4 linked regions of the Homo sapiens genome follow. The protein of the gene in region 2 purifies or fractionates together with the protein of the main gene of each other region. This does not show direct contact. Each region holds a gene or a part of one and is shown on either strand. Other genes may lie near its edges. The genes, in order: POLR3E, GIMAP8, OAS2 and SRP54.

The links.
Region 1: the proteins of GIMAP8 (region 2) and POLR3E purify together in Homo sapiens (affinity purification with mass spectrometry; 2 studies listed by BioGRID and IntAct, with this or other methods). This does not show direct contact.
Region 3: the proteins of GIMAP8 (region 2) and OAS2 purify together in Homo sapiens (affinity purification with mass spectrometry; 2 studies listed by BioGRID and IntAct, with this or other methods). This does not show direct contact.
Region 4: the proteins of GIMAP8 (region 2) and SRP54 purify together in Homo sapiens (affinity purification with mass spectrometry; 2 studies listed by BioGRID and IntAct, with this or other methods). This does not show direct contact.

The regions. Positions count from the first base shown.
Region 1 is NC_000016.10:22,328,021-22,336,289, reverse strand, and holds the end of POLR3E (DNA-directed RNA polymerase III subunit RPC5), read right to left. Parts: exon of another isoform or gene 7,781-8,269; coding exon 7,703-7,780; intron 4,231-7,702; coding exon 4,105-4,230; intron 2,647-4,104; coding exon 2,590-2,646; 3' UTR 1,194-2,589; downstream 1-1,193. UniProt on the Homo sapiens protein: DNA-dependent RNA polymerase catalyzes the transcription of DNA into RNA using the four ribonucleoside triphosphates as substrates.
Region 2 is NC_000007.14:150,473,961-150,480,493, reverse strand, and holds the end of GIMAP8 (GTPase IMAP family member 8), read right to left. Parts: intron 6,483-6,533; coding exon 5,856-6,482; intron 3,403-5,855; coding exon 2,714-3,402; 3' UTR 1,101-2,713; downstream 1-1,100.
Region 3 is NC_000012.12:113,001,679-113,009,947, forward strand, and holds part of OAS2 (2'-5'-oligoadenylate synthase 2), read left to right. Parts: intron 1-1,253; coding exon 1,254-1,424; intron 1,425-3,255; coding exon 3,256-3,544; intron 3,545-4,734; coding exon 4,735-4,922; intron 4,923-6,026; coding exon 6,027-6,265; intron 6,266-7,408; coding exon 7,409-7,577; 3' UTR 7,578-8,269.
Region 4 is NC_000014.9:35,020,502-35,028,770, reverse strand, and holds part of SRP54 (signal recognition particle subunit SRP54), read right to left. Parts: intron 5,862-8,269; coding exon 5,691-5,861; intron 684-5,690; coding exon 588-683; intron 1-587. UniProt on the Homo sapiens protein: Component of the signal recognition particle (SRP) complex, a ribonucleoprotein complex that mediates the cotranslational targeting of secretory and membrane proteins to the endoplasmic reticulum (ER).

The sequences.
Region 1 (8,269 bases), on a different chromosome or scaffold from region 2:
CTAGGTCAGCAGATGGATGAGCCTGGTGCTTGCATGCATAGGATTAATCCTGGAACGTAGGTCCAGTGGAGTGGGCCAGTTGATTGGGTCTGCAGGGGTACAACCAGAGCCTGAGTCCACAAGGGCAGGCCTGGAGCCTGCATCCAGGGAGCTGACCTGAAGCCTAAAAACCTGCAGGGGTGGGCCTAGGTTCTGGGTCCATAGGGACTGTTCTGGAGCCTCAGTCCGCCAGGGCATGCCTGGCATTGAGGCTTACTGAGGTATGTGCCTGGAACCTGGGTCCACTGGAGCCTGGTGCTGAGGCACACATGGACCTTGGGTCCAGGGGTATTGTACTGGAGCCTGGGATTGTGGGTGCTGGCATGGGGGCATATAGATCAGCCTGGAGCCAGGGGTATATAGATACTGGCCTGGAGATTAGTCTCTGAGGGCTCGCTTGGATCCTGGGGCCATGGGGGCTGGCCTAGAACCTGGGGCTGCAGGGGATATTGGAGCCTAGTCTGTGAGGGCCAGCCCAGTGCTGGGGTTTACTCAGATGGGGCTGGACCAGGGTGGGGAGGGGGTGCCTGCTAGAGTGTGAGCTCATGGGTGCAGGCCTGGCAGTGGGTATGCTTAGAGCCTGTGTTCCTGGCGCAGGCCTGGAGTCTGGGGCTGGCATGATTTTGGGGTCCAATGTTCTCCTTCCTCCAAGTAGAGGGTCTCTCTCTCTCTCTCTCTCTCTCTCTCTCCACCCTGTGCTGCCTGGGGCTGGGGAGGGGGTAAGCTAGGTAATGTAAAATTGTCCCTCCTATCCTCTTTAGTACATCTTATTTCTGTGGTACACCAAGGTGCTGTAATCTCTAGAGGTTCCTTAACTCTTGTGAAGGTATTTTTGTGTGTGGACAGTTGTTTAAATTCATGTTTCTGCAGGGGGATGAGTGCTGGAAAGTCCTATTCTGACATCCCAAGTTCCCTCAATTTTTTTTAAAACAATAGTTCCCTCCTATATTCCTTGTTTCTTTTTCTTGCTATTTGAGTTTGGTGTTTTAACCAGTTCTTTTTATCAATGTAAAGTATTTAAGGCTCTGACTTCTCCACTGAGCCAATTAAGTTCTGCAAGGTGATGGGACTAACATTCTGTGCCGTCCCACATGAGCATTTCCCCTTTCAAAGTGAGAAGGAAGTAGGATGGAAAAGCTGAGACATATTCCAAATCGCTTTTGGTAACTTTACTTTTCAGGTTCACATATGTTAACAGAATCAATACACGATCAACTTGTTAAGTGATGTTACCAAATACTTATTTGGCAAAGTACATCCTTGATCAATGCCTTAGTGATTCTATAGCTAAAATATTAGATGTTTTATTTTGGGGGGAGTGGGGAAATAGCATAGACCGTCATTTAAACCTTCAGACAATTAGTGACTGTGTTGTACAAAAAAGATGGCGAAAGCCTTATCTAGATACCAAAATTCACATGTCATCCAACCTAGCTTACTCTTATTTTTTCCATCAGTTTCTAGGGCTGTGCTATCCAATACTGTCGCAAATAGCCCCATGTGGCATCGGAGCACTTATGATGTGGCTAGTCCAAACTGAGTGTTGAGGAAAGTGTAAAATGCCAGATTTTGAAGACTTTTACCTTATGTTGATGTTTTAGATATTTTGAGCTAAATAATATGCTAACATGACCTTTTTAAACTAATGTGGTTGCTAGAAACTTTCAAAATTATGTACGTGACTCGCCTCTTTCTAGTGGACAGTGCTGCTCTGTCTTCCTCCATTAGCTCCGTTCCCTCTAGATACACGTAACGCTGAGCCCAACAAGATCGCCTTCCTGTAACCATTTGAAGATAGCACCATGATGCTAGTTTAGTGTTTGCATTTATTTTAAAAATACACAAAATAGAAATTTTTACATCAAAGTGTGATAACCTCACTTACACATTGTTCCATACTTACCTGGTTTTGTTTGCATCTTTCTGCAAACATTAAAAGGAGATGGATTTGATTCTGATTTTTTTGCTATGGTTCATGTAAACAGTTGAGACTGCTACATAAAGTAGGTTGTTGTCAAAGGTGAAGTGGCCACAGAATCCCAAGAATAGAATAATTCAATTTGGTTTAATGAAATTGGTGGAGGTCTTAGCAGATAGATAATCCAAGACTAAATATTGTCTTCTAGGCATTTTAAAAATTAAGAACTTTGAGGTTTTCTTCATGTTGTAAACATAACTTAGACCTTGTTGGCATTAAGTTTACAAAAGAAAATATTAAACCATGATTTTTATCATCCTGCCCATGTCAGTATACACTCTCTTTATTATGAGAATGAAACCAAATAATAAGCAAAATACATCAGGAATTTCAAATTGTACTGCAAAGAAGGTCCCAGCTGGTCTCTTCTGGGAGTGATCTAACTAACTTAAGCTGACCCTGCGACTGGCTGAGGATAATCCCTTCTGTCCACTGCACCGTGCAATGCCACAGGTCATGAGATGGTCAGTTCCTCTTGCTCTGTGTCGTCTGAAGCAAGTCGAGGCCCTACTTCTGGTTCCGCCCTTCTTCCTTGGGCTTAGATTTGCTGGGTTAGTAGTTTGCTACTATTGTCAAGACTGTACTGTCCCTTTAAGGTACCACATGCCACCATAGCTTACACAGCAGTCCTATGAGAGAGAAACAGGGTAAGCACAGATTTTTGCAGGAAAAGGAGCTAATTACATTCTGTCCACAATGTCAACACTCGATTTATGATTAGTGAATAGAATACAAATGGGAAATCAAAAACTGCCTAACCATACCACCATGGCTACTACCAGCCACCCTTTCCTCAGGGGTAGTGTTTTTTTTTTTTTTTGAAACAGAGTTTTGCTCTTGTTACCCAGGCTGGAGTGCAACGGCATGATCTTGGCTCACTGCAGCCTCTGCCTCCCAGGTTCAAGCGATTCTCCTGCCTCAGCCTCCCAAGTAGCTGGGATTACAGGCATGTACCACTACGCCTGGCTAATTTTGTATTTTTAGTAGAGATGGGGTTTCTCCATGTTGGTCAGGCTGGTCTCAAACTCCTGACCTCAAGTGACCCACCCACCTCAGCCTCCCAAAGCGCTGGGATTACAGGTGTGAGCCACCGCGCCTGGCCATTCCTCAGGGGCATTTTAAAAGTGAGGGTGGGCCAGGCATGGTGGCTCACACCTGTAATCCCAGCTACTTAGGAGGCTGAGGCAGGAGAATTGCTTGAAACTGGGAGGTAGAGGTTGCGGTGAGCCGAGATTGTGCTACTGCACTCTAGCCTGGGCAACAAGAGCAAAACTCCATCTCAAAAAAAAAAAAAAAAAAAAAAAAGGGGGTCTACGAAATACAGATACTGACATGCCCAGAACAAGGGTGCTTAAAAAACAGTATTACTTATATGGCTCTGGATGTTTAATCAAAACAAGACATTGTCATCAGTTTTCTGTCTCTCAGTGTTGCTGCAAATATGGTTGGTATTTGTACTACAGTCACTTCAGAAAAGCATTATAGGTTGTACATTAGGTGCTTTCATATAGTAAACAGATCATATTCCTTTTTAAACTAAATTTAAGAATGGATTCTACTGAAAGTCATGTGTGTGGCTATGGCAACAATCAGAAGATAGTTCAAAATTCAAGGGAGAGTAGAGTGAGGATTCTCAACTAGGCCCTATCATTTTAGAAGACGCCTACCCACTGCCAAGCTCATCCAACCTACCATATTTTTTTGTTGTTCTATTGTTTTAGGCTCTTAGCAGCCTGAAGCCATGGTTTTTAGTTTCTGTCTCTAGTGACAAGCAGAGAAGAGGGATGAAAGGGGCATTACTGGCCTGGCCCAACCAGAAAGAGAAACAAAGCATCCATGGCTGTATTCTTTCCCTTGGACACCACTGTGACTATATTGTTTGAAGGGGTCAGTCCTCTGGCACATACCCCCTTCCCCAACCAATGCCAATCAATCAATCATTAACAGTTGCTCAAGACAAGACTGACTGGGGAGTGGTCCCAAGGAAGCCTGATTTCATATACACAAAGACACTAGAGTCCCTTCTACACACTGTCAGCCCCTTCCAGAGCCTTTGATATTGTTTGTTATGCACAAAATGGATGTACCTTTAGTACTTTATCCACCTCCTGTTTACTGAGATCTTCTCCACACTCTTGAGTCAACCGAGACTGGATCATGTTTCGGCGTACCCGGTAATTTTTGGAAAAAATTTCAAGCAAAACCTGTCGATGCTTTAGTAGCAAAAACACGTTATGATGGGAAACAGTGATCTAAAAAGAGAAACATCCCCAAACAAGACACCCAAGCCATGCACCTGACTTTGTGTTGCAGTCTCTGATAAAAACCCTCACGCAGCACCTCTGGTTAAAGATGAGCCAAGTCATCTCTAGAGACCCAGCAAGACAGTGTACAGAAATAAAAACACAAAAGTAAAGGCATTAATGCTATGTCTGGAAACTTGAATATAAATAAAAACAAAGGTATATGCCAGCATAACAAAAGAACTGGTGAAGAGACATGAGAGGATGAGTGGCTTGAACATATTTCTGCATGGTAAAATGCAGGCGTGCATCGGACTTAGCAAGCAGGTGAAGCGACAATCTAAGCTGCACGGAGATGAGAAGAGGGTGTCAAAATTGGTGTGAAGTCTTAATGCACAAACATGCCACTGCATCCATGAAACAGGATGCCGTAAAATACGTTACACCCCAAAATAAAAATGGAAAAGATTGGATTCAGTATGTCTAATATCTGTCATAAGAATTCTGAAAAAAACAAAAAAAAGTAACAACTCACAGGATTTTATAAGAACTCAATTGTCTAGTACAATAATGACCCGCACCAGGGCACAGCTGAAATGGCACTGACTGATATACAGAATAATGAAAAATTCTGCAGTTTGGCATAAAGGAAAGAATACAGGCCAAATTTAAAAGACCAAGAAGGAGAATGTTATGGAATTTCAACAACTCTGAAAACTTAAACAATGGAAACTCTCTTAAAGATGCTTCATGCCGGGCGCAGAGGCTCACGCCTGCAATCCCAGCACTTGGGGAGACCGAGGCAGGCGGATTACCTGAGGTCAGGAGTTCGAGACCAGCCTGTCCAACGTGGTGAAACTCCGTCTCTACTAAAAATACAAAAATCAGCCACGCGTGGTGGCACACGCCTATAATCCCAGCTACTCAGGAGGCTGAGGCGGAGGTTGCAGTGAGCCGAGATCGTGCCATTGCACTCCAGCCTGGCTGACAGAGGGAGACTCTGTCTCAAAAAAAAAAAAAAAAAAAAAAAAAAAAAAAAAAGGATGCTTCATGTATCACTATTTGTCTAGGACTAGAATTTTGAGAGGCAAATCATTTGATCACGTAAAAATAGAAACTTTGATAACCTCACACATTGTTCCATACTTAGCTGGTTTTGTTTGCATCTTTCTGCAAACATTAAGAGGAGATGGATTTGATTCTCCTTTTTTTTTGCTATGGTTCATGTAAACAGCTGACTGCTACATGAAGTATCCTTTGCCTCTTAAAATTCTAGTCCCAGACAAACAGTAATACTGTATTGTAATCCATTTTAAGACATGAAAGAATGCAGACAACTCCTCTGTCTCTTCAGAAGCTAAAGCAAGGAAGAAGCAGAGATTCCAGAATTCAGCAACAGACATGGGGAAGAGCGAGTCTCACTGGAGAAGCAGAGGGAGAGGCTTCCCGGGAACCAGGCTTAATTAAGCAAAGTATCACCCTCGGTACACATGTGTTCAGAAAATTACACAAGTGAAAACAGGAAGCAGTGAACAAGGAAATGCAATCATAGTATATTACTGATGTTTGGCTCTACAATGGATAGATTTTCAGTTCATTCTGTGACAATGCTATAAACAATGATAGCCAATTAAAAAGAGGTAAAGGCCTGGTGTGGTGGCTCACGCTTGTAATCCCAGCACTTTGGAAGGCCAAGGCAGGCAGATCATTTGAGGCCAGGAGTTCGAGACCAGCCTGGCCAACATGGTGGGACCACCCCCCGACCCCTACCACCGCGATCTCTACTAAAAATACAAAAATTAGCTGGGTGAGGCAGCACAAGCCCGTAATCCCAGCTACCCGGGTGGCTGAGGCACAAGAATCGCTTGAACGCAAGAGGCGTGAGCTGAGATGGCACCACTGCACTCCAGGCCTAGATGACAGAGCAAGAGCAAGAGCAAGACGCTATCTATCTCAAAAAAAAAAAAAAAACTGGCGTAACATATCTATCTCTACAGTCTCCTAAAATAGTTGAGAGCTAAATCTCATCCACCACAATGGGAAGCCCATTGCTAATGACAGGCTGATTTTTTTTTTTAAATGGGGGCAGCTATTTTAGTGGTATCTTTTGGTGATGTAAATGCCTATGATCCTAGCACTTTGGGAGGCTGAGGCAGGAGAACTGCTTGAGGCCAGGAGTTCAAGACTAGCCTGGCCAACATAGTGAGACCCTGTTTCTATTAAAAAAGTAGTAATAAAAGTGGTCACCTCTGAGGGGTGGCAGTCAGGTCCAGCAGTGCAAGAGCTTTCCTATTAAAACTTCTAGTCTGATTTGATGTTTAAAAATCTGCATTTATGACTTTTGTTTTTTTGCCTTTTTGTTATCAAAGTATTTCAGATACCCTCTATTCTGGACAAAAGCACTCAAGCTTGCTCAGGAAAAGGCCCCAGCCCCTTAGATCCTCAGCCTGCCAGTTGGCTCCCCTAAGAGGCAGCTGGGGACAGAGAGCTCAGTGGGATTTCTGCTGACTCCCTTCTCCCCACACCTTAGGAGCAGGGCCTAGACACGGTCAGACCGACTGGCGTTTCGACCATCAAATTAGGTACGTTCACGGCCTAAGAAAAGCTGGGATGCAGGGTCCATGACTACACCACACACACGCAAGGCGCTGCTGCTTCCACTCACATTTCTGGGCACTGGACACCTGTGACCCTCCCCATCACAGTATGACTAGAGGCAAAATGACCAATTTCTTTAACCTAAAAGTCCAGGACCTGACATCTGACAAGGAATCCTTTTGATTCCTGCTGCCAGAGGCCGCCTGAGAAATGTGCTTCACCAGTGCTCTATAAGCCTGGCTGGATCAGAGTTGCTCAGGAAGCTTTACAGAAATTCAGATACCTAGGACAGTACCGCATACCTACTGAACAGAACTGAATCTATGTTTTTTTTTTTTTTCTTTCTGAGACACAGTCTTGCTCTGTCGCCCAGTCTGGAGTGCAGTGGTGCAATCTCGGTTCACTGCAACCTCTCTCTCCCAGGTTCAAGCAATTCTGTCTCAGCCTCCCACGACTATGGGCATTTTTAGTAGAGATGGGGTTTCACCATATTGGTCAGGCTGGTGTCAAACTCCCAACCTCAGGTGATCCACCCACCTTGGCCTCCCAAAGTGCTGGGATTACAGGCGTGAGCCACTACGCCCAGCCTGTATTTTTTAAAAGATGATTCTGATGGAGCTGGCTCACAGACTGGCATCTGGGAACCACTGGTTTAGGTTCAAACTATTGGCACATACAGCTTATTTTGTTAGCGTACAGAGTTGGAGCAGGATATTTAAAACCGAGTGTGCCAGAAAATCTGAAATGTGTGGCTGCACTTTGGGTGCACATGTCCCCCAAGGCCTCCAACGCTGCAGGAAACCCCCCTGGCTCTTCGGGAAGATGGCAGCAAAGTTCACCTCACCTGATCACTCATGTCTCCAGACTCCCAGAGGGCAAACACCTTCTGCTCATCCGGGGAAGCAGCAGTCTGGGGGGGAAACTGACCAAGGCCCAGGGGTGAGTTGCTTGTCCATCTCTACCCCATGGATCCATTTGCTTGCCTCATCCCTCCCTGTCTGCCCCAGCCCAGATGCAGGAACATGGGTTCCAATCCCAGCTTCTGCTACTCACCATCTCTGAGGGCCTTGGGCAGCCACAAACCTGTGCCTCTCACCTCACCATGGGGAGGAGGCCAGCACACCCCCCAGGGCCTGACAGGGCTTCAGCGAGAGGGGGAGTGTGATGGGCCCAGTGAAATGCCCGGCTTCGAGTCTGCAGATATCCTCCGTACAGTGGGGAAGCTGCGTCTGTTTCCCATCAGCCTGGCACCAACTCAACTGTGCTTTAACACCCAGAGTCCTCCCTCCTGAAGATGCCAACCCTGATGGAGGGGCGCCCCCTTCCCCATAACTCTTGGGGTACCCTGGGGGTTCTTTTCAACTGCTTCCCACATGTACCATGTCAGTGTGGGTTAGAGGCACTGCCTGAC
Region 2 (6,533 bases):
CAGGGCAAAATTGTTTCCAGTTGAGAACTAGCACATTACCTCAATGATGTCACATTGGAGAGGCAGGACAAGCAATAGGTGGCCAGCATGATAGTGGCCTTGGTAAGACACATATGTTTGAGAGAGTAGAATATCAGTTCTGGACTTCCAGCTCAAGGAGGGTCTTCAGTGAGACATGGAGGATGTCCGCCAATTATGGCAGTGAGGAAGGGATGCCACTCTTGAAGGCTTTCACTTCAAGAAGAAACTTGCCATTCAGCTCCAGCTGCAACACTGTCAGGTCCCATCTGAGCTTCTGAGCTGAAGCCATGCTTTCTCCAGCCAGTCCCCAGCCTAAAGCGGAGCACAGCAGAGCTCCTAGTGTCTGTCCAATGCAGGACTTGGCTATTAATCTGTCTTTGCCCCAGAATTCCCTATTGAGTTGGCCTGGGCTTTGCCAGGCTCTTCCTGCCCAACTCAGCTCCTCCCCACTTTTCTCTTGCAAGTGTCCAGTCTAAATGACAGTCTGAAGGCTTTCCCTGCCCAATTTGGCTTCTTCCCTCTTTTGTCTTTCATGAGCTTTCCCCATAAACCTCTTGTGCTCCTAACTCTTTCTCGGCATGTATTTCTCAGAGAAACTGACACAGCAGTATTGTTGCCCCGTTCAGACTTGGACCTGAAGGAAAACAGCAAGGTATGTTAGAGCCAACCTGTGAGAGGATGCCACATTGCTTAGCCCACACATCACCCACCTTGTGCAGCTCCCAGTGTCACCTGCTCAGCCATAGGTAGCACACTGGGATTTGTTTCTGCCTTCAGGCAGAAGGGAAGCTCAGGGAAGAAGCACAAAATGCCTTTCAGACCTTATTCCTCCCATGTTTCTGGTTCTAATACTGGTTACATTTATTTGTCCTTGCTATACTTAGATGTCCAGAGTGAAAGATAACTGAGCTGTCAGGGACCTGCCACACAAATGGCTGTCACCCAGTCTAAATGAAGGTCCTCAGGCACCAAAGATACAAAAACCTCGCCTGAGTCAAGGTATCTAAACATCTCAATTGTCTCTTCATGAAGGTATGCTGCTTCCCTAAATCACAAAAATAGAAATCAGAAAGAGAATGTGAATTCATAATGATTCATCTTTATTATTTGATTCAACTAAATATATTTACACACTTTTTTTTACTTTCCAATTTTTATTTCAGGTTCAAGGGGTACATGCACAGGTTTGTTACATGAGTAAGTTGTGTGTCACAGGGGTGTGGTGTACAGGTAATTTTGTCACCCAGGAAACCAGCATAACACGCAATAGGCAGCTTTTCAATCTTCACCCTCCTGCCACCCTCCACCCTCAAGTATACCCTGGTGTCTATTGTTCCCTTCTTTGTGTCTACGGCACACACATTTTCTAGAAGTTATTGTGTTAAGGGTTATATGGAATCCAAAAGTATTAATGGCAACAGTCCATGTCCTTTTAAATGGATTAATGTTGACGGTAACCTGATATTGTCTAGGGGAAAAAAACAGATGACAAAGATTATGCTCTCAAAGCATGTACAAAGTGCTCAACATTTTACCCTGTATCTATCTTATCCTGTATCTACCCAGAAGAAGGTTCCAGATTTCTCTCTCACATATCACCCACCTCTCAAAATAATCTGCTCAGCTATGGAAAGAACACCACTGTCTTGAAACCAAGAAGCAAATTCGAGTGTAGAAGCCACATCCCAGTGCAGGTGGGACAGAAAGATAGAACAAAACTGGGATGTTGACGCCCACCAGCCCCAGCCTGCTTATTCCTCGGCTTCCTGACAGGAGATACAGGAAGCCCCTGATGTTTTTAAACCATTATTATTGGAGTTCTCTGAGTTTTAACCTGTTTCCTAACCTCAAGGGAAAGAGAAGGAGAAAGAGAAACGCAATGGAGATTCTAATAACCTTCTCTAGAGGAAATCTAGAACAACACTTAGAATTACAGAACTTTGCAAGATTCTCTGATTTTGGCAATCTTACTATGCTTCTAATTTCTGTTCTAGTCTATGTCACTGTGATAATTAGCAATAAAATCATTCAGAACCTCCAAGACTCATGTCTGTTTCCTCAGGGACAGCCAGCAATGGAAGACTATGTCCCACTTCACATCTAGGCGTGGAACGTGAAGAGCCGTAAGGAATGGCTAACGTGTGAAGAAAAGAACACTCTAGCCCTAAGTCGCATCCCAAAGGAGACAGGAGAGCTCAGGGAGCCAACGGCCCTGGACAACAGGGAGGCCCTCTGGAGTCTGCTTCCTGCTTCCGCCATGCCCAGGAGTGTGCTGAACGCTGCCCTGGTCTCATGTATCTGGATCCCCTGGGTTGTTGTACGACTATCTATATTCTCATCCCAGGTGGCCTCAGCCTTGATCACAGTGTCTATCCTGATTCCAACCTACCTACACAAGTGAGGTGATTCTTGTGACTTGATTCTACCACTTATTATCAGCCTAATGTCTGAAATCTTTTTCCAGATTTCCCCACCTTGTATCTTCTTTCTCCTTTATAATACCCTACTATTCGCCCCCACCTGCAATTTATTTATCTACAAATAGCTGATACATCACAAGGCGGGATGCATTTGCCTCTCAGGCCCTCAAAGCCATGAACCCGCTTCCCTTCCCACAGGTTGTACCATGCCCCGCCCCTCCCCCCAACCTGAGGGTGTCTCTAATTGAAGAGACCCCAGGCACTTCGGCTACCTATTGTAAAATACCTATTAAATTTTTAAGGAGTTTTTCGGCTTGGGACATTTCCTGGACATTTTTAATTAGTTTGCTGACGTTCTCCTGTGTATGGGGATACCCGGACCACCCACTTTCTTTTCTCAGATCATTGACCTTTGTTAAAAGAGCTTTCACCTGGGTTTCCTGGGCCTGGCCTGTTTCTTTGTTGTTAAAAGCACAAACTCGCCGCCCACACTTTTTAAAAATGCGCCGAAGGGCTTTGTTATCTGAGTTCTTCATGAAGTCTTCCAAATTCCCCGCCCCTAGGTCTTCCTTCCGGGTGAACAGCATAATCGCGTATTTCGTAAAGTCTGCTCCAAAGATGGCCTCCAGTTTCGCCACAGCTGTTTTGTCCTCTTCAGTGAATCGTCCCAGCTGGAACACCAGGACAAAAAATGTGTCCCCTTTTTCACAGCAGGACAAACAGCGCTTGACCTCCTCTTCTAACCGGGATGGGTCCTTTTCGACATCCAGCATCTGGTTGAAGGAAGGAGTGTCCACAACCACCACCTCCTGTCCGTCCCATGTCCTCCTGCCACTCTGGCTGGTCTTGGTGACTGGCTGGGCCCGGAGCCGAGAGGTGAAGACGAGGCTCCCCAGGATAGAGTTCCCGGTCGCACTCTTCCCAGTCCCGCTTCTCCCCACAAGGACAATGTTCAGGGTTTCTGTCAAAGGAAAGTGGGAAAGATTCGTGACCATGGGCTGATCTGAAATTGGATTTTAAAGTTATCCCATGAAGCAAGATTACATCACTAAAGTAAACAGCATGTTCAAACAGCATCAAGACCTCCTTCTCACCCAAGCAGGGGGATCTCCAAACACGGGAATGACTTGGCCCAGTTCACTCAGTCTGTGGACTCATGGCAGGACTTGGACTACATACAGTCTCCGTCCAGGGTTCATCCACCAATGTGGCACTGTTCCTATCACTGAATCGGCTCTGCTCCCTTTTTGCAGCACCTTCCAGACAGACTCCCTGGCACCTGTGAGTGTCCCCTGGCCTTCTTACTCTCTGCTCCCCTCAGCTGGGTTCCGTCTACACATCTCATCCCTTTGTCTTCTGTTCCTGTTACAACTACATCTTCTCACTCCCAACTACTGCTAACTATAGCAACATCTCCTTACAGTATTTAAAGAATTATTCTGTAAAATTGACTTTCATGAAAAAGAAACTCTACATATCACTGATAGATTACCAGTTTCCTTAGTTAGGACATGTAAAAATTCATTTCTCATTAAAACCACATTGAACTTAATTGCCTTTCACTGATGAGTCAGAAGAAACCGCATGGTTATAATAATGAATATCCACTAACACTGTTGGGTGTGTGGTGTCCATGATGGAGAAAGAGAATGAATTTCCCTATAAATGGAATTTACAGACACATAGAGACCTTACAATATGCGTTCTTTGGAGATCGTTCTTATGCTTTTGCACTTGCACTGTGACAGTCCAGTGCTCATTCAAGTCTCTTCGTAGTTCTCTTCCATTATGAATTTCATATCAAATAGCTAATATCTACTTCAATGCAAAGGAGGAAGAAAGCACATCCCATGCTCTTCCTTCAAGGGGAAATTATTAACCTGTTTATGCTGAAACTTCAACTTCATAGTTATGCCCAGCAGATGAACAATAGCTTAATCTTCCAACACTCCCATATTTGTCATATATTTCAGTCCCTACTTCTGTACCTACAGAGGGTGTGTTTCTCATGTACCTCTGAAATCCGGCCCCACTCCCCATCCCATATTCTCTAATTCAGTGTTCTTAATGTTCAACGCCTTAATCTTCAATGTTCTTGGAAGATGTCCTTTAGAGCTGTGAACCCCCATCTCCACCAAGATTATTCTTTTTTGTCCCCTAACAAGTGACATGCTTAGTCCTACCTCTTTGCTTCAAATTGCTGGTGTACTCTCTGGAATATCTTCCAGCTTTCTGCTCAGCCATTTAATCCCTACCCATTCTCTAAAACCTGTTTCAAATTGGGCTTTCTACACAAAGCCTCTCCTGACTTTCCCATGTATCTATACTTCTAAAGGAGGGTTCAATAAGAAAATATGCTCCTTTGGGTTTTATCTTCTTCCTGGGTGAGGATGTTTGAAGCAGAAAAAAAAACGGGATGAGTAAGAATGGGAAGGACCTCAGCATAGGTCAACTGAACGTGTAGCACTAAGTGGATGAGGAGCCCTTCTTAAGTAGTAAAGAGAGCAGTGTGCCAAGCTCTGGGCAACAGTACACTGTGGGGAAACAAAGGGTTGGAAAGCATCAGCTCCTTTCTTCAAGACACTCACACTATCCAGTTGAAGAGATAGTAAAGATCATGAAAAAATTAAAGACCGGTTCAAGAGAATGTGCATGGAAAAGCTATAACTTCAGTACAATTTGAGAAGCAAAGAAAGAGAAAAGAGTTAGTCCATAGAACAGACCTATCCTTCCTTTATTTTTCTTCCAGTTTCAACTTCTTTTTTGTTTCATTTCAACTTTTATTTTAGGTACAGGTACATATACACCATAGAATAATAGGCAGCCATAAAAAAGAATGAAATCCTGTCTTTTGCAGTAACATAGATAGAGCTGGAGGCTGCCATCCTAAGCAGACTAACACAGGAACAGGAGACCTGTCCTTTTTATCTTCTCTATGCCTTTTAGAAAATGTGGCACATATACACCATGGAATACTATGCAGCCATAAAAAATGATGAGTTCATGTCCTTTGAAGGGACATGGATGAAATTGGAAATCATCATTCTCAGTAAACTATCGCAAGAACAAAAAACCAAACACCGCATATTCTCACTCATAGGTGGGAATTGAACAATAAGATCACATGGACACAGGAAGGGGAATATCACACTCTGGGGACTGTTGTGGGGTGGGGGGAGTGGGGAGGGATAGCATTGGGAGATATACCTAATGCTAGATGACGAGTTAGTGGGTGCAGCGCACCAGCATGGCACATGTATACATATGTAACTAACCTGCACAATGTGCACATGTACCCTAAAACTTAAAGTATAATAAAAAAAAAGAAAAAAAAGAAAATAAAAAGTTCTTATATATTTTATACCTATTTTTAAATGATATATGTAAAAATATATATCCTATTCACAGTTTTACCTTTTTCTCTGAAAACACAATGCTTGTTCCCATTCTGATGCACCATGCTCTCAATTTTTTCCAGGAGCTCGTCCGCCTGCCTTTGCTCTTCTTCTCCTGTTGCCCGGTAGTTGAAGGCACTATATCTGTTTTTACACTTCTGGATGAGACCATAGAGAGCTTTATTGCTGTTTCTTAAGAACGTATCTAGATCCTGATCCCCTAAATCTTCTTTCCTGGTAAGAAGTATGATCATGTACTCAAAGAATTTTTCTCCAAAATTGTTTTGGATGGTGCTCAGCACTGCCTCATCATTCTTAGTGTAAAAGCCCAGTGGTGTCACCAGCAGGAAGGCATGGGGGCCTGTACAGATGTGTTTTCTAACTTCTGAGTCAATGTTCTTTAAAGATGAGATGTCCGGAGCATCAATGATCGAAACTTTCTTTTTTCTCCAGCTTCTGCTCTCAGACAAGAAGCTCTGGGTTACTGACTGCTCACTAAATCCGGTCTGAAAGGCCTGCCTCCCCAGAATGCTGTTTCCTGCTGCACTTTTTCCAGCACCGCGTTTCCCCACAAGGAGGACTGTCAGTTCTGATGTCCCCGGATTCTGCTCGGGTCCTGTGGACTGCAGCTGCCTTTCCCTTGGGCCTGTGGGACAAATGGACAGGTTCAGAGTCTCTTCCTGCAGTTGAATATGGA
Region 3 (8,269 bases), on a different chromosome or scaffold from region 2:
TAACTCCAACACCACCACACTCCAACTCTAACCCTCCTGCCTCCATCTTATAAGTACCCTTGTCCTTATAAGCACAGTGGCTCACGCCTGTAATTACAGCACTTTGAGAGGCTGAGGTGGGAGGATTGCTTAAGACCAAGAGTTTGAGACCAGCCTGGGGAACCTAGTGAGACTCCCATCTCTACAAAAAAAAAAAAAAAAAAAAAAAAAGCTAGGCGTGGTGGCACAAACCTGTAGTCCCAGCTACTCAGGAGACTGAGGCTGGAGGATCCCTTGAGCCCAGGAATTGGAGACTGCAGTGAGCTATAATGGCACCACTGCCCCCCAGCTTGGGTGACAGAGCGAGACACTATTTCTGAAAAAACATGGGTTAGAATCATGGGTTGGAAGGCTACCTGTTGGGTTCTATGCTCACTACCTAGGTGATGGGATCATTCATACACCAAGCCTCAGCGACATGCAATTTACCCATGTAAAACCCCACACATGTACCTCCTTGAACCTAAAGTAAAAGTGGAGAAAAATGTATTAATTAATTCAATTAAAAATTAAAATTAAGAGGAAAAAGACCCCTGTGATAACATCAGGCCAAACCAGGTAATGCAGAATAATCCTCCCATCTCTAGAGACTTAACCACGTGTGCTTCAGAGGGAGCACAGCTGTGCCAAAACCTGGACTTTGAACTGTTGGCCTCCAGAACTGGGAGAGAATAAACTTCTGTTGTTTTAAGCCACCTAGTTGTGGTCACTTGTTATGGCAGCCTTTGGAAACCAACACACCCGCACATGGCGTGTTTAACGCAGGCTGATACAACCTTAAGAAAGGAATGGATGTGGTCATCAGCAATCTCCAATACCTACAGCAAATGGGAAGACAGGGAAGGACCAGAGGTGTAGGTAAAGCAAAAAGCCACAGGTCATTAGGAAGTGATGCTCCAACTGGGCATGGAAAAGGAGTTTGGAGTTAGGAACACGACAGATCTGTCTGGACAAGGATCCAGATCTCTCCTAGGGGGAAGGAGGGGCAACTAGGACAGTTTTTGTGTCTGTGGGGGGTCTTGTGTGCCACTCCAAACTCTCAGGTGTGTTCTTGGGATGTATTTGTGCAATGACAAAAGACGGAAAAGATGCCAGCCCACGAGCAGGAGGGCAGTTGGGAGAGGCAGGGTAGGGGGCCCAGTACAGGCAGGAAAAGAAGCCTTGGGTGGGCTTACAGGTGCCACTCACACTTGGGGTCTTCCTTCCTTCCCCAGCCTGCACCACTCTTCACGACCCCAGGCCACCTTCTGGATAAGTTCATCAAGGAGTTTCTCCAGCCCAACAAATGCTTCCTAGAGCAGATTGACAGTGCTGTTAACATCATCCGTACATTCCTTAAAGAAAACTGCTTCCGACAATCAACAGCCAAGATCCAGATTGTCCGGGTGAGCACTGGCCTTTCTCATGTCTTGTTGGAATGATGTAATATTGGGCATTCCTGGAAGGGAGGTAAGTGGGCATTGTAGCTCTCCAGGATCCATCTACCTTCAGAAACTTGAGGAAGGGAAGCCAGGAGTTAAGGGAACTAGGACACTAGTTTTCAGGGGGGTTGTGGATAGACTGCCTAGGTCATTAACAACACAACTTTGATTCTGTATTGTTTTTCTTGGAGCTGTTGGCCGTCCTTGGGGCTCTTGGGCCTGGAGACACATCACTCCCGTCTCTGCCTCTGTCATCACCTTTTCTTCTGTGTCCTCCCCCTTCTCTTCTTTTCTAAGAACACTTGTCATAGGATTTAGGGCCCAGCCTGATCCAGAATGATCTCATCTCCAGGTCCTTAACTCAGTTACATCTGCGAAGACCCTTTTTCCAAATAAGGGCACATCCACAGGCCCCCAGAGCATGTATTTTTAGGGGTCCACCATTGAACCCACTGCAGATTCTAAGGAGCTTAGAATCTCCTTCTCCTTTGAGTGACTGGAGCCCGGCTTGCCCCATCAGCTGAGCTAGAGATTTAGAGGCTTTTGTCATTCTTGTCCGTGGCTCAAAGGCCACGGGGCTGACATGTTTCTCTCTGTTTACTGGTCACACGACCAGATAAACGTGTCCCCGTGGTCACAAGAAGGGAAGGAGGAAAATGTTATTATGTACGCGTAAATTTCTGCGTTGATGCCAGAACAAATCTGTGCAACTAGAGAAGAGGGGCCTGGGAAATGGCACCAATAGCCCCAGGGCAATGAGTGAACTGTCTCATTGAAGGTCACTGGAGTGAAAACAGGACTGAGTTTCTGATCAGTGTTAGAATTGTCAAAGCATGTGCTTTCTCCTCTCCTTCCTGAAACCCCATTCACATGATAGTCAGTGAAAAATAAAAGGTATATGACACATCAAAGAAGAAAAGAGAGCCATCGGCAGATAAGACATTGCTTTCCATCTTCCTGAAGTTGGTTGAAGGTTTCTCTGCTTAGGCCAGAGGAAGGTGACACCTAGAGATTGTAAGGAAGGGGCTACAGTCTGAGAGGAGCCGCCGAAGCCCACCTCTTAAAGACAAAGGTGGCCTGCATGAATGAAGGGGGCTGGAACAGGGATGAATTGAGGATCTGCATACAGGAAATAGAACATACCCTTTCCTCACCTCCTTAACCCATGTAATCAGGCATTTAATACCCATGGATAAAATAAAACATTTTTCTCTACAGAAACTAAATGGAGGAGAAAGAGGAGGAAGAGGAGGAGGGAGGGAAGGGAGAAGCCTTAATGGCAGAGACATAAATAGCCCACAAAGCCTAAAATACCTACTATCTGGCCCTTTTGCAGAAAGTTTACCAACCCTGTACCTCAATTATGGATATTCACCCAATGATCGCCAGACCTGCAGGAGAAAACACACATCAAAGAACAGATGAGCACCTTCACCATAATTATTGCATTCCGCTCGATTTATTTGGTTACAGGAATCCAAATAAAGCTAAATATGTCTTTAGGAAAATCTTTAGGAAATTGACCTGAGAAGCAGGTAACTTGTAACTAGCCCATCAGTTGTTCATGTATAAAAGGCAGGAGAATAATTGCCTTGGGAACTGTATTGTTTAATAACTGCATTATCTATTAGTTTGTAAAAGAAAACCCTTTGCTTTGGACTCAGCCCTCACTGAACCCTAACGCAGAACTTGGCCTTGGAAACAGTGTCAGTTAGCCCAACTGGTGCCAGCCCACGGGGGCACGGGACTCCTCGGTTAAGGAAATTCTGGATCTCAACCTTCCTTTCTTCCTTAGGGAGGATCAACCGCCAAAGGCACAGCTCTGAAGACTGGCTCTGATGCCGATCTCGTCGTGTTCCATAACTCACTTAAAAGCTACACCTCCCAAAAAAACGAGCGGCACAAAATCGTCAAGGAAATCCATGAACAGCTGAAAGCCTTTTGGAGGGAGAAGGAGGAGGAGCTTGAAGTCAGCTTTGAGCCTCCCAAGTGGAAGGCTCCCAGGGTGCTGAGCTTCTCTCTGAAATCCAAAGTCCTCAACGAAAGTGTCAGCTTTGATGTGCTTCCTGCCTTTAATGCACTGGGTAAGGCTCCCCAGACCTTAGCTTGGAAGTGATGGTGGACAGAAGGTGGAGGGAGAGCCACGTGACTTGATTACGGGCTCTGAAAACATGTGCCACTCATGGGTCCCTGGCCCCAGCAAGTGGCATTAGTCATGGCAGTAATACTTCACACTTGTAGACAATTTTGGTCCCATTTCTCTTTTCCAAGCATGGGGCTGTGTGCCTATAATCCCAGTAATCAGGGAGACTGAGGCAGGAGAATTGCTTGAACCCGGGAGGTGGAGGTTGCAGTGCGAGATCGTGCCACTGCACTCCAGCCTGGGTAACAGAGTGAGACTCCGTCTGAAAACAAACAAACAAACACACAAACAAAACAAGCAGTTGGGCTGGGCATAGAGGCTCACACCTGTAATCCCAGTATCTTGGGAGGCCGAGGCGGGAAGATTGCTTGATCCAGGAGTTCGAGACCAGCCTGGGCAACATAGTGAGACTTCATCCCAAAAATAAATAAATAAATAAATAAATAAATAATAAACAAAGTTAGCCAGGCATGGTGGCACACGCCTGTAGTCCCAGATACCCAGGAGGCTGAGGTGGGAGGATTGCTTGAGCCCAGGAGATGGAGGCTGCAGTGAGCTGTGATCATGCCACTGCACTCCAGTCTGGGGCAACAGAGCAAAACTCTGTCTCAAAAAAGCAAAAAACAACAACAACAACAAAAAAAAAAAAAAAAAAAAAAAAAAAAAAAAACAAGAAGCAGCGCACCAGATTTAGCCCAGGGGGCGGTAGTTCACAAAGTCCAGATCAGTGTCGTCCCAGAGATCTTTCTGTGATCATGAAAATGTTCTATGTCTGGGTTCTACAACTACTGAGAGCTTGACATGTGGCTACAGCAACTGAGGAACTAAATTTTTAATTTTCATTCCCTTTAATGAATGTGAGTGCAAATGGCCACATTGCTGGTGGCTGCTCTGTTAGTTTAAGTCTAGATAATACTTTAATAATACCAGCTGCACCTGTGTAGACCACATAATTTTTACATATCTCATTATTCTGGAGATGCTCCCTGTGTCTTAGACATCAGTCTTTTAAATATGCTAATACTATTCACAGTAATTTCCAAGAATTAAATCATATTTGTCAAAAATGTTTTGGAATCTGTTACTTACTATGTGTATTAAAGCAGGATGTCAATCTCTCCCTCATGCCAGGTCAGCTGAGTTCTGGCTCCACACCCAGCCCCGAGGTTTATGCAGGGCTCATTGATCTGTATAAATCCTCGGACCTCCCGGGAGGAGAGTTTTCTACCTGTTTCACAGTCCTGCAGCGAAACTTCATTCGCTCCCGGCCCACCAAACTAAAGGATTTAATTCGCCTGGTGAAGCACTGGTACAAAGAGGTAAGGACAGTCTTTGTTCTGACCATGGGGTTATTATTTTTACCAGTAAGCCATGAACATTAAGCCCTGTTGCCCACAATCTCCCATGCTGAGGGCTGAGCCACTTTGGAGAATCTGCCCACTGGATATCTTTACGACGTTCCCATCACTAACCCTATTCATTTGGGTCAGGCGTTGATGGCTTCTGCCCATCAAAGCTGCTACATGTGGTTTACTTTGCCCTCACACTGGCCAAAGAATTCTGCAGGAATCCAAGTGACCTTGCCTACAGAGGGTGGGTGGAAGCTGGGATTCACATGCCCACACATTGCCAATAGGACTTTTCTGCTTCCCGGCGCACATGCTCTCTCTCAGAAGGCAGGTTGAAGCTGTAGGTGGAACCGGGGCTGCATTTTCTATACACCCAGCTCACAGGAGCTTGAACAACTGGTCAGCCCCTGAGCCCCTACTACAAGTGATCCTCAGGCAGGTAACCCCAGATTCATGCACTGTAGGGTGCTGAGCAGCATCCCTAGTCTCTACCCAGTTTCCCCTCACTTGCACACAAAGTAGCTTCTGAACATCCTCATGACAGTAAACATCAAGCACGATATCAGCTCTTCCTGAGATGCCTCCTTTCTGTGTCCAGCTCCCTGAAATGTGAAACCAAGACCAAACTCTGTAGTTTTCATCCCAGAAAATCAGAGAGCTGGCATGGCGTGTCAGAAGACTTGGGGCTGTGGCGTGACCTTGAGTGAGTCACTCCACTTCCCGCAGCTTCAAAGTCTTCATCTAAAATGCAGGTCATGCTGCCTGCATTGTGGGGAAGATTAGGAATGATGTGGGTAAATGCCTGGGCCCATAGCTGGCATGCAGTGGGTTTCTAGTAAACTGTAGCTATGTTATTGTCCTAGGAAGGCATATATGGTCAAAAGCACAACAAAGAAACTCAAATGTGCTGCTGCCAGGTGGACTCCTGTAGGCTGTACAATTTAGACATCCAAGCTGCAGAGTGTGAGCACACCAGCACGACACTGTGACTCAGTTGCCTTGCTGTGGTCCCTGTGCGGCTCTCACTGAGCTCCTAGGCTAACCAGTTCGTCTGATGTTCCCACTCTTACCTAGTGTGAAAGGAAACTGAAGCCAAAGGGGTCTTTGCCCCCAAAGTATGCCTTGGAGCTGCTCACCATCTATGCCTGGGAGCAGGGGAGTGGAGTGCCGGATTTTGACACTGCAGAAGGTTTCCGGACAGTCCTGGAGCTGGTCACACAATATCAGCAGCTCTGCATCTTCTGGAAGGTCAATTACAACTTTGAAGATGAGACCGTGAGGAAGTTTCTACTGAGCCAGTTGCAGAAAACCAGGTGCCTTCACCCTAGCCCCGTACTTTTCTTAACCTGATTCCCTTGAACACTGTCTCAGCAACCTGGATTTTCCTCTGCTGGGGTCACGATTCATTCCTTGCATGACGGGGGAAAGTGCTAGCCAACAGAACCTGTCACAGTCTCCAGGGATAAAACCTAGCAGGGGCAGGAGAAAATGCTGTTCAGAAAAAATAGAGAAGGAAGGTTCAAGATACCACGTCCCTGAGCTGCTTTCATCTAAGAGGTGTTAGAGTTGGAAGTGTGTCCCTAAGAATTAACGCTATCATTCACGGGCCGATTTATCCTGCAGGGTTTTTATTGGGTTAGGGTTTATCTACTCTTTCAGACCTTCAAGAATAGTAAGAAATCATATCCATCTGCTTAGGGCCACCAGCAAGGGACAAAAACAATGGAAACCAGAGGAAAGGAAAGAGAGAAAATAAAGGAGCGTTGAAAAAGAATAGAGGAGAAGTAAGAGAGAAGGAGACCCCCGGTGGGTTGCCTACCCTGGGTTCTTGGCAACATTGTATTTGATTAAATTATGTATCATATTTTAGCTGACATAGCAAGGAGGAGATATTTAGACTATGCCTTCATTATGCCTTCATGAGTATAGCAATTAACAGCTTTCAAAACGCTTTTGGCAAATACAATTTAATTCTAGGAAGTTGCTTTGGTTTTGGCTTTTGTTTTTGTTTTTGAGACAGAGCCTCACTCTGTCACCCAGGCTGGAGTGCAGTGGCACAATCTCAGCTCACTGCAACCTCTGCCTCCCGGGTTCAAGCTGGTTCTCCTGCCTCAGCCTCCGAAGTAGCTGGGACTACAGGTGCGCACCACCACGCCCAGCTAATTTTTGTATTTTTAGTAGAGATGGGGTTTCTGCATGTTGGCCAGGATGTTCTCGAACTCCTGGCCCTCAAGTGATCCTCCCACTTCAGCCTCCCAAAGTGCTGGGATTACAGGCATGAGCCACTGCACGCGGCCTCTAGAAAGTTACTTTGAACCCTACTAGTAAATTTGAGTTGCTGACATCTAAGCTGTAAGAACACATTGTCTTATTGCTGAAAGTATTATAGGATGGACCCCAAATTCTGAAGTCACTGGGATTTGGAATCTCCTAATGCCTTCTAACCTCTCATTCAGGCCTGTGATCTTGGACCCAGCCGAACCCACAGGTGACGTGGGTGGAGGGGACCGTTGGTGTTGGCATCTTCTGGCAAAAGAAGCAAAGGAATGGTTATCCTCTCCCTGCTTCAAGGATGGGACTGGAAACCCAATACCACCTTGGAAAGTGCCGGTAAAAGTCATCTAAAGGAGGCGTTGTCTGGAAATAGCCCTGTAACAGGCTTGAATCAAAGAACTTCTCCTACTGTAGCAACCTGAAATTAACTCAGACACAAATAAAGGAAACCCAGCTCACAGGAGCTTAAACAGCTGGTCAGCCCCCTAAGCCCCCACTACAAGTGATCCTCAGGCAGGTAACCCCAGATTCATGCACTGTAGGGTGCTGCGCAGCATCCCTAGTCTCTACCCAGTAGATGCCACTAGCCCTCCTCTCCCAGTGACAACCAAAAGTCTTCAGACATTGTCAAACGTTCCCCTGGGTTCACAGATCTTTCTGCCTTTGGCTTTTGGCTCCACCCTCTTTAGCTGTTAATTTGAGTACTTATGGCCCTGAAAGCGGCCACGGTGCCTCCAGATGGCAGGTTTGCAATCCAAGCAGGAAGAAGGAAAAGATACCCAAAGGTCAAGAACACAGTGATTTTATTAGAAGTTTCATCCGCAAATTTTCTTCCATTTCATTGCTCAGAAATGTCATGTGGCTACCTGTAACTTGAAGGTGGCTACAAAGATGACTGTGGACGTGGGTTGCACTGGCCACCCAAGGATGTCTGCCACACCTCTCCAAAGCCCTCCCTACCTACCAAGATATACCTGATATATTCCACCAGGATATCCTCCCTCCAGATATACTTGGTTCTCTCCACCAGGTTCTTTCTTTAA
Region 4 (8,269 bases), on a different chromosome or scaffold from region 2:
AAAATTTTTTTCTTATAAATCCAAAAGGGTCTTACTCTAAGTTACATAAAAAATAATCAATAGGGGATTATTTCATAGGACTTACAAAAAGAAAATAATTCATTTATTGAACATCTACTATATGCCCAGAATTGTACTGAATGTCTTCATATATATTATCTCATTTAATTGTCACAATTTCTTGATGAGATATGATCTGTGATTTTACCGAAGGGGAAAGTGAGGTTCAGAAAGTTTAAGGAACTTTGTAAAGGTTATATAGTCAAAGTAGAACTCAGGTTAAAAATCCTCAGTCATATAAGTAAAAATATCCAGGTTCTAAAATAAGGGAAAAAGTCACCAGAACAAACAAAAGATGATTAAATAGCTTGCTCAAACATCACACAGATGGCAGCAGAGGAGTGAATAAGACCTCAGCTAATAAGCCCTATTACAATTGAATTCAACTTAGGATTCAGATGACCATTTCCCTGAAATCACACACCTTTTGAACATATTTTCATAATATTACAATAAAAGGCTTATCATTAAAACTCAACCCTTATAAATTAAACTGCATTAGCAACTGCCAACAACTTGGTATTTACCCATGTGATGAAGAACCCTAGGATCCATCATTTTGGCCATTTGTTGGTTCAATTTTGCCATCTGTGACTGGCTCACATTCTTAGACATGTCGCCACCTGAGGGGAAAAAAAAAAAGATTTTGAGTCAGCGTAGGAGGTAATATAATCAGTATAATCAGGGTATAATAGAAAGTTTGATGAACTGAGAAAATACTAAGAAAAAATTACATAATCCTATCACTCTAACATAATTCTTTCTATTTCTACATATTCCCTTCTAATCTTTTTCTCAATTACATACTATTTTTTGAAGACCATGTAAAATTCTATATAAAAGGACATATAAAAGGCTTTTTTAAGGCTACGATTTATGCTAATACTTTATTTATATCTGTGAATAAGCCACTATTAGCAAAATTGTACCCAGTGTTTTATTTTTTATTTATTTTGAGATGGAGTCTTGCTCTGTCACCCAGGCTAGAGTGCAGTGGCGTGATCTCGGCTCACTGCAACCTCCACCTCCCAGGTTCAAGTAATTCTCCTGCCTCAGCCTCCCAAGTAGCTGGGATTACAGGTGCCCGCCACCACACCCAGCTAATTTTTGTATTTTTAGTAGAGACAGGGTTTCACCATCTTGGCCAGGCTGGTCTCAAACACCTGACCTCGTGACCCACTCACCTCAGCCTCCCAGAGTGCTGGGATTACAGGTGTGAGACACCGTACCTGGTCAGCCAGCAGTTTTTAATAGTAAGCTATAACAACGGCTTAATAGTGATACAGGGGAATGCTGGACAAAAAGCTGAGTTTATAGACATGGGTTAATTAGCAAAGAGACTGGATGGCTGGTAGATGAATATGAAAGTATGAGTCTGTTGGGCTGGCTGTGGTGGCTCACAACTATAATCCTAGCACTCTGGGAGGCCGAGGCTGGCAGATCACTTGAGGTCAGGAGTTCGAGACCAGCCTAGCCAACGTGGTGAAACCCCGTCTCCACTAACAATACAAAATAAATTAGTCAGACATGGTGGCACACGCCTGTAGTCCCAGCTACTCAGGAGACTGAGGCAGAATTGCTTGAATCCGGGAGGCGGAGGTTGCAGTGAATCAAGATCGCACCACTGTACTCCAGCCTGGGCGACAGAGCAAGACTCTGTCTCAGAAGAAAAAAAAAAAAAAAAGAAAGTAGAAAGTAAAGTATGAGTCTGAGAGAACGTGAAGATGTGTATGTATCTAAGAAGTTTTTTTTGTTTTGTTTTGTTTTTGAGATGGAGTCTAGCTCTGTCACCCAGGCTGGAGTGCAATGGCACGAACTCAGCCCACTGCAACCCCCGCCTCCCGGGTTCACACCATTCTCCTGTCTCAGCCTCCCGAGTAGCTGGGATTACAGGCATGAGCCACCACACCCAGCTAATTTTTGTATTTTTAGTAGAGACAGGGTTTCACCATTTTGGCCAGGATGGTTTCGATCTCTTGACCTCATGATCTGCCCGCCTTGGCCTCCCAAAGTGCTGGGATTACAGGCGTAGGCCACAGCGCCTGGCCAGAAGTTTTCTTTAAGTAATGAAAACCTTCAGAGAATACAAAGACAAATAATGCAACTTCACTTGTCAAGGAATTTCTACACTATGTCAAAACACCATAGTAAAAAGGGCAGTCAATGAAAGAGATGCAGCCTGGGTGAGGTGGGTCACATTTGTAATCCCAGCACTTCAGGTGGCGAAGGTAGGCTGATTACTTGAGCCCAGGAGTTCAAGATCAGCCTGGGCAACATGGGGAAACCCTGTCTCTACAAAAAAAACAAAAAAAAGCATTAGCTCAGTGTGATAGCATGCGTCTGTAGTCTCAGCTACTTGGGGGCCTCAGATTGGAGGATCGCTTGAGCTTGGGAGGTCAAGGCTGCAGTGAGCCATGATCATGCCATTGCACTTCAGCCCCCAGCCTGGGTGACACAGCGAGACCCTGTCTCAAAACAAAACAAAACAAACAAACAAAAAACAACAAAAAATAAACAACAACAATAAATAAAAAAACAACAACAGAATAGATAAAAACACCCTTTAGACAACAGCTGTACTCATAAAAGAAAGCAAGAGATCATCACTACAACAATGAATAGAACTGCTTCAACAATTTTTTTTTTTTTTTTTTTGAGACAGGCTCTTGCTCTGTCGCCCAGGCTGGAATGCAGTGCTCTGATCATGGCTCACTGCAGCCTTGCCCTCCTGGGCTCATGGGATCCTCCTGCCTTGGCCTCTCAAAGTGCTGGGATTACAAGTATGAGCCACCACAACCATCCAAAATTATTTATTTGAAAGGGGCATTAACTATGGTACTTCTCAGAAGCATTTATAAAATATGGGACTCAAAGCTCCTCCTGATTCTCCAATCACAGCTGGTTAATGTGAATAAATCATGTGAATTATAAACTATGAATGAAAGAGAAGATTATGTTTTTATGATAAAATCTGTGAAAACCATTTATGATGAATAAATCTGAAGAAGATGGGAATTCCATGCTCATTAGTGATTTGTCCTAAGAGTTTGTTTATCAGCATTTAAAACTTCTAAAAAGTATTTCAAGTTTGGTGTGACATAGCTGTGTGTATACCCACTGCCAACTTCATCTTGGGTTATTCCTTTATTGAGGGATCAATGCATAGATAAGATCTGGATGGTGAATCTGTTCTATCAAGAACAGTCAGGACTACATGGGAAAGACATTACAGTGATGTAATGTGTTTATTAGTCACTATCTGAAATAGCATGTGATGGTAGGAATTATAACCAATTTTCAACATGTTTGTCTAATTTTTTTGTCACAAAAGAGAAAATAGGATATCGCAAGGAAAATAAGGAAAGCTTCAAAGACAAAAGGTAATTTAAAACATCTGGAAATACTCATTCTTTTAGAAGCTATTCAATGGTATTGTTCATATTCAGAGCTTGTCTAATTAATATTTTTGGAAACAATAAATTCATTTTAATGGGTTTCAAGGCAAATTTTCACAGACTCTGAATTAGTTGTTTACATTATAGAAAAAAATCAAAAAGAGGACTGGAACAGTTGGAAGTCTTTGGAAAACCTTATCTTTTTACGATACATAATACACAGCAAAATAAATTCAATTGAGATTAAAAAGTCAAACACAAAATAAAAACAAAAACAAGTAGAAGCCAGGTGTTGTGGCTCATGCCTGTAATCCCAGAGCATTTTAGGAAGCTAAGGCGGGCGAATCACTTGAGGTTGGGAGTTTGAGACCAGCCTGGCCAGTAAAGATGGTGAAACCCAGTCTCTACTAAAAATACAAAAATTAGTTGGGCATGGTGGCACGTGCTTGAAATCCCAGCTACTCGGGAGACTGAGGCAGGAGAATAGCTTGAACCCAGGAGGCGGAGGTTGCAGTGAGCTGAGATCATGCCAGTGCACTCCAGCCTGGGCGACAGAGCAAGACTCTGTCTCAAAAAAAGAAGAAAATGGTGACAACTGTGGTATCAACATGGAGAAGGTTAACTTGATTACCTCTGTAAAGAAAAAAAAAAAAGGAAAAAATAAACAAGGGGAAGCTGTTTATGAGCATAAAAGAAATAAAAAAAGATAGGCTGGCTACATTAAAAAGGGCAACTACTGTTCATTATAAAATATAAATAAAAATAAAAGGTAAATGAAAAACTGGGGGAAAATATTTGAAGACATAAACCAAAGATTTTAAGGAGCTATTACAAAGATATAAGGGGGAAAAATGGAAGAACTGGACAGGGAACATGAAGAGGTGATTCACAAAGTAAATTCAAACCAGTAAATGTACAAAGAAATGTTAAACTTAATAATGTAAAAACACATATTGAGAAAATATTCAACCATTAAAATGGAAGTGAGGCCGGACGTGGTGGCTCAAGCCTGTAATCCCAGCACTTTGGGAGTCCGAGGCGGGCACATCATTTGAGGTCAGGAGTTCAAGACCAGCCTGGCCAACATAGTGAAACCCCGTCTCTACTAAAAATACAAAAATTAGCCAGGCGGTAGTGGTGCATGCCTTTAATCCCAGTTACTCGGGAGGCTGAGGCAGGAGAATTGTTTGAGCCTGGGAAGCAGAGGCTGCAGTGAGCCGAGATTGTGCCACTGCACTCCAGTCTGGGTGACAGAGAGAGACTCTGTCTCAAAATAATATAAATAAAGAAATATAATGGAAATTATATTACTACAAAATTTTTTTAGCTTCTACTATGTTTCTGATCAAAACAGGCAAAAATCCCTGGTCTCATGGAACTGCACAAAAACTGATCTGATATAGAAGTGAATGAATCAGCCTTACTGTCCAAAAAAGTGGCACTACATTAGACAAAGATACATGCATAACTTAAACAGTATTACTCAGAAGAAGTGTGTGTGTGTGTGTGTGTGTGTGTGTGTGTGTGTTTGGGGACCGGAGTCTCACTCTGCTGCCCAGGCTGGAGTACAGTGGTACAATCTCGGCTCACTGCAAGCTCCGCCTCCTGGGTTCAAGTGATTCTCCTGCCTCAGCCTCCCGAGTAGCTGGGATAACAGGTACACCCCACGACACCCGGATATTTTTTGTATTTTAAGTAGAGGCAGGGTTTCACCATGCTGGCCAGGCTGGTCTTGAACTCCTGACCTCAAGTGATCCGCCCGCCTCAGCCTCCCAAAGTGCTAGGATGACAGGCATGAGCCATCGTGCCTGGCCAAGAATTATGTTTTGAAGAATATTTGACAACATGGAAAAACAGTTATGATATATCAGAAGAAAACTTAGTTATAGCAACTGTTATTTGCAGTAGGATCCACTGGATTCTCTGGGGAGTAAAGGTAATGTGTTTTTTTTTTCCTTATATTATCTAAATTTAATATAATGTGTTCACAAAAAGAAAATCATTGCTTTATTAATTTTTTTTCATTTACCCACACTACACAGATGTAAAGTTTTTTTTTAAATATTAATATTACCTTGAATATGAAAACAGATAAATCACAGGTCACATAAATCCTGGAAGTACTTGAAAATAACATGAAATTCAGCTGTGAATTTTCCAATACTGGCAGCACTCTTTTTTCTCAACTTCCTTTCTTTTCCGTCTGTTAACTAATAACAAGCTTATTTTTCTTACCTTTGAAAAGTCCTTTGATACCTCCCATCTTTTTTACCATCTGTGCAAACTTGGTATATTGTGTCAAAAGTTCTTGAACATCTCTTGTTGATACACCCGATCCTCTTGCTACTCTTTGGATTCTTCCTGGTTGTTTACTAAAAACTTTGGCACCATCCGTACTGTCTAGTTCTGTAGACAAGGTCAGTTACTCTCACACACAATTATCATTCACCATCAAAGCAGTTATGTGCAAATGGGCAATATATAACTTCAAAGAGCTTAGCAGATGTTTTTAAAGTGATAACTATCTCATTTTTCTTTTTATATTACAAAATATCTTACATACAGAAAAACAGACATAATACATAGTCAAACTACCACCCAGATTTAACAAATGTTAACATTCGCTATGTTTGCTTTTGAGTTTTAAAAATTAAACATGGAGGCCAGGCGTGGTGGCTCATGCCTGTAATCACAACACTTTGTGAGGCCGAGGCAGGCAGCTCATGAGGTCAGGAGTTCGACACCAGCCTGGCCAATATGGTGAAACCCTGTCTTTACTAATAATACAAAAATTAGCTGGGCATGGTGGCATGTGCCTGTAGTCCCAGCTACTCGGGAGGCTGAGGCAGAAGAATCGCTTGAACCTGGGAGGCAGAGGTTGCAGTGAGCCAAGATTGCGCCATTGCACTCCAGCCTGGGCGACAGAGCGAGACTCCATCTCAAAAAAAAAAAGAAAATACGGAATATATTCAAAAGAACATTTATAGTATTCATAAGCTATAAAAACAATGAAACAAACATGTACTTTCCCTACAGTTTAAGTAAACTATTAATAGAATGTTTCGAGACCCCATGTCCAACATTTCCATACTTCATATGTCTACCCTCTCCAGGCCCTCCAAACATCAGAGGTATATGGTATATTTAAAAAATGAACACAAATGCTCACTTTAGCTCTACCCTAAATATTAATCATAAATTCATAATGTAGACTATATAAGCAAGCAGAAAGAGGTACGTTCTATCCATAATCAACAGAAAAATTATTTCCTATAATCAAGTAATTACTACTACTAGTATTTTAATTCTCTCAGTAGCATATAGTGAATTAATTCCCGCAGTTGTTTGATCACTCTTAGAATATCAGGTGCATTTCTTCTAGCTTCAGTTGCATGCAATCTCAGGAATGGGATGGACTTTAGTCAAAATGTCCATTATGTCTGCATTCCCTCTGCAATATCCCCCAAATAAATGGTTATCTAGCCTTGGTCTTAATATCCCCAGGAGAGATGACCTGCTATCTAATGTAAGGCTGTCTATGCCATTCTGTTATACTTAGGGAAAAATCTTTTCTTTACACATATTAAATTGAAATCCATTTACGTGGCACTTCCATTCCTATTCATGTATATGTCTCCTTGCTACGCATAAAAAATAAGGCTTTCAAAATCTTTTTTTTTTTTGAGACAGAGTGTTGCTCTGTCCCTCAGGCTGGAGTGCAGTGGTGCAAGCTTCGCTCACTGCAACCACCACCTCCAGGGTTCAAGCGATTCTCCCACCTCAGGCTCCTGAGTAGCTGGAACTATAGGCACACGCCACCACAGCCAGCTAATTTTTTTTGTACTTTTAGTAAAGACAGGGTTTCACCATGTTGCCCAGGCTGGTCTCGAACTCCTGACCTCAAGTGATCCACCGACCTCAGCCTCCCAAAATGCTGGGATTACAGTTGAGAGCCACCGCACCTGGCCAGCTTTCAAATGCATAAGAGCTACCATGTCTCCTGTGAATTTTCGCTGGATGACAAATATCCACCTCTGACTCTTCTAACATGGTTTAGAACCCCATTTATCATCCTGATTTCCTACATCTTTTAATTTGTCTATACATACCCTCTAAGTATATTGTCCAGAAGTGAACTGAAATCCAGGTGAAGTCTAATTATCAATGCAATACTAACAAAGATACAATATCTCAAAATAAAGTCACGATCAAAACCTCCAAATCCATTTCATAAATGCAGCTTTTAAGCCACATCTTCCTTATAAAAGATTTATGAAACATATATATTATATTCCTTCCAACAGCTCAAATCAAATGAAAGAAGATAAACTAATAGCAGCACATCGTGGCAAGTAATACGACAGAGTTAAGCAAATAGAGGAAGGGGCGTTAATTCAAAGAAGGAAGGAAGTCAGGAAAGGTTCTATACTGGGCAAATTACTCAACTTCCCTGTATCCCAGTTTCCTAATTTGAAAAAGGCAGATAATAACTGAATATGCCATAGGAGTTGTTATGATGATAAAATGAATTAATATATTTAAAGTGCTCAGGACAGTGCCTGGCACAGAATGGATACTTTAGATATGCTGCAATTATGAATTCTACATGCAAACATTTTTGCAGTGTTAAAGACAGTGAGGAAAAAAAACAACCTTAAAAGAAAAAGACAGTCTTATTTGGGCTACTATGAAAACCTGGAGCTCAGGAAAAAGAGACTACAAAAAAATAACAATAAATCAGATAGTAGATAAAGCACAGATATGAAAAATTGTTCAAATTGTTAGAATATTACATAAACTTAGTTGATAAAGCA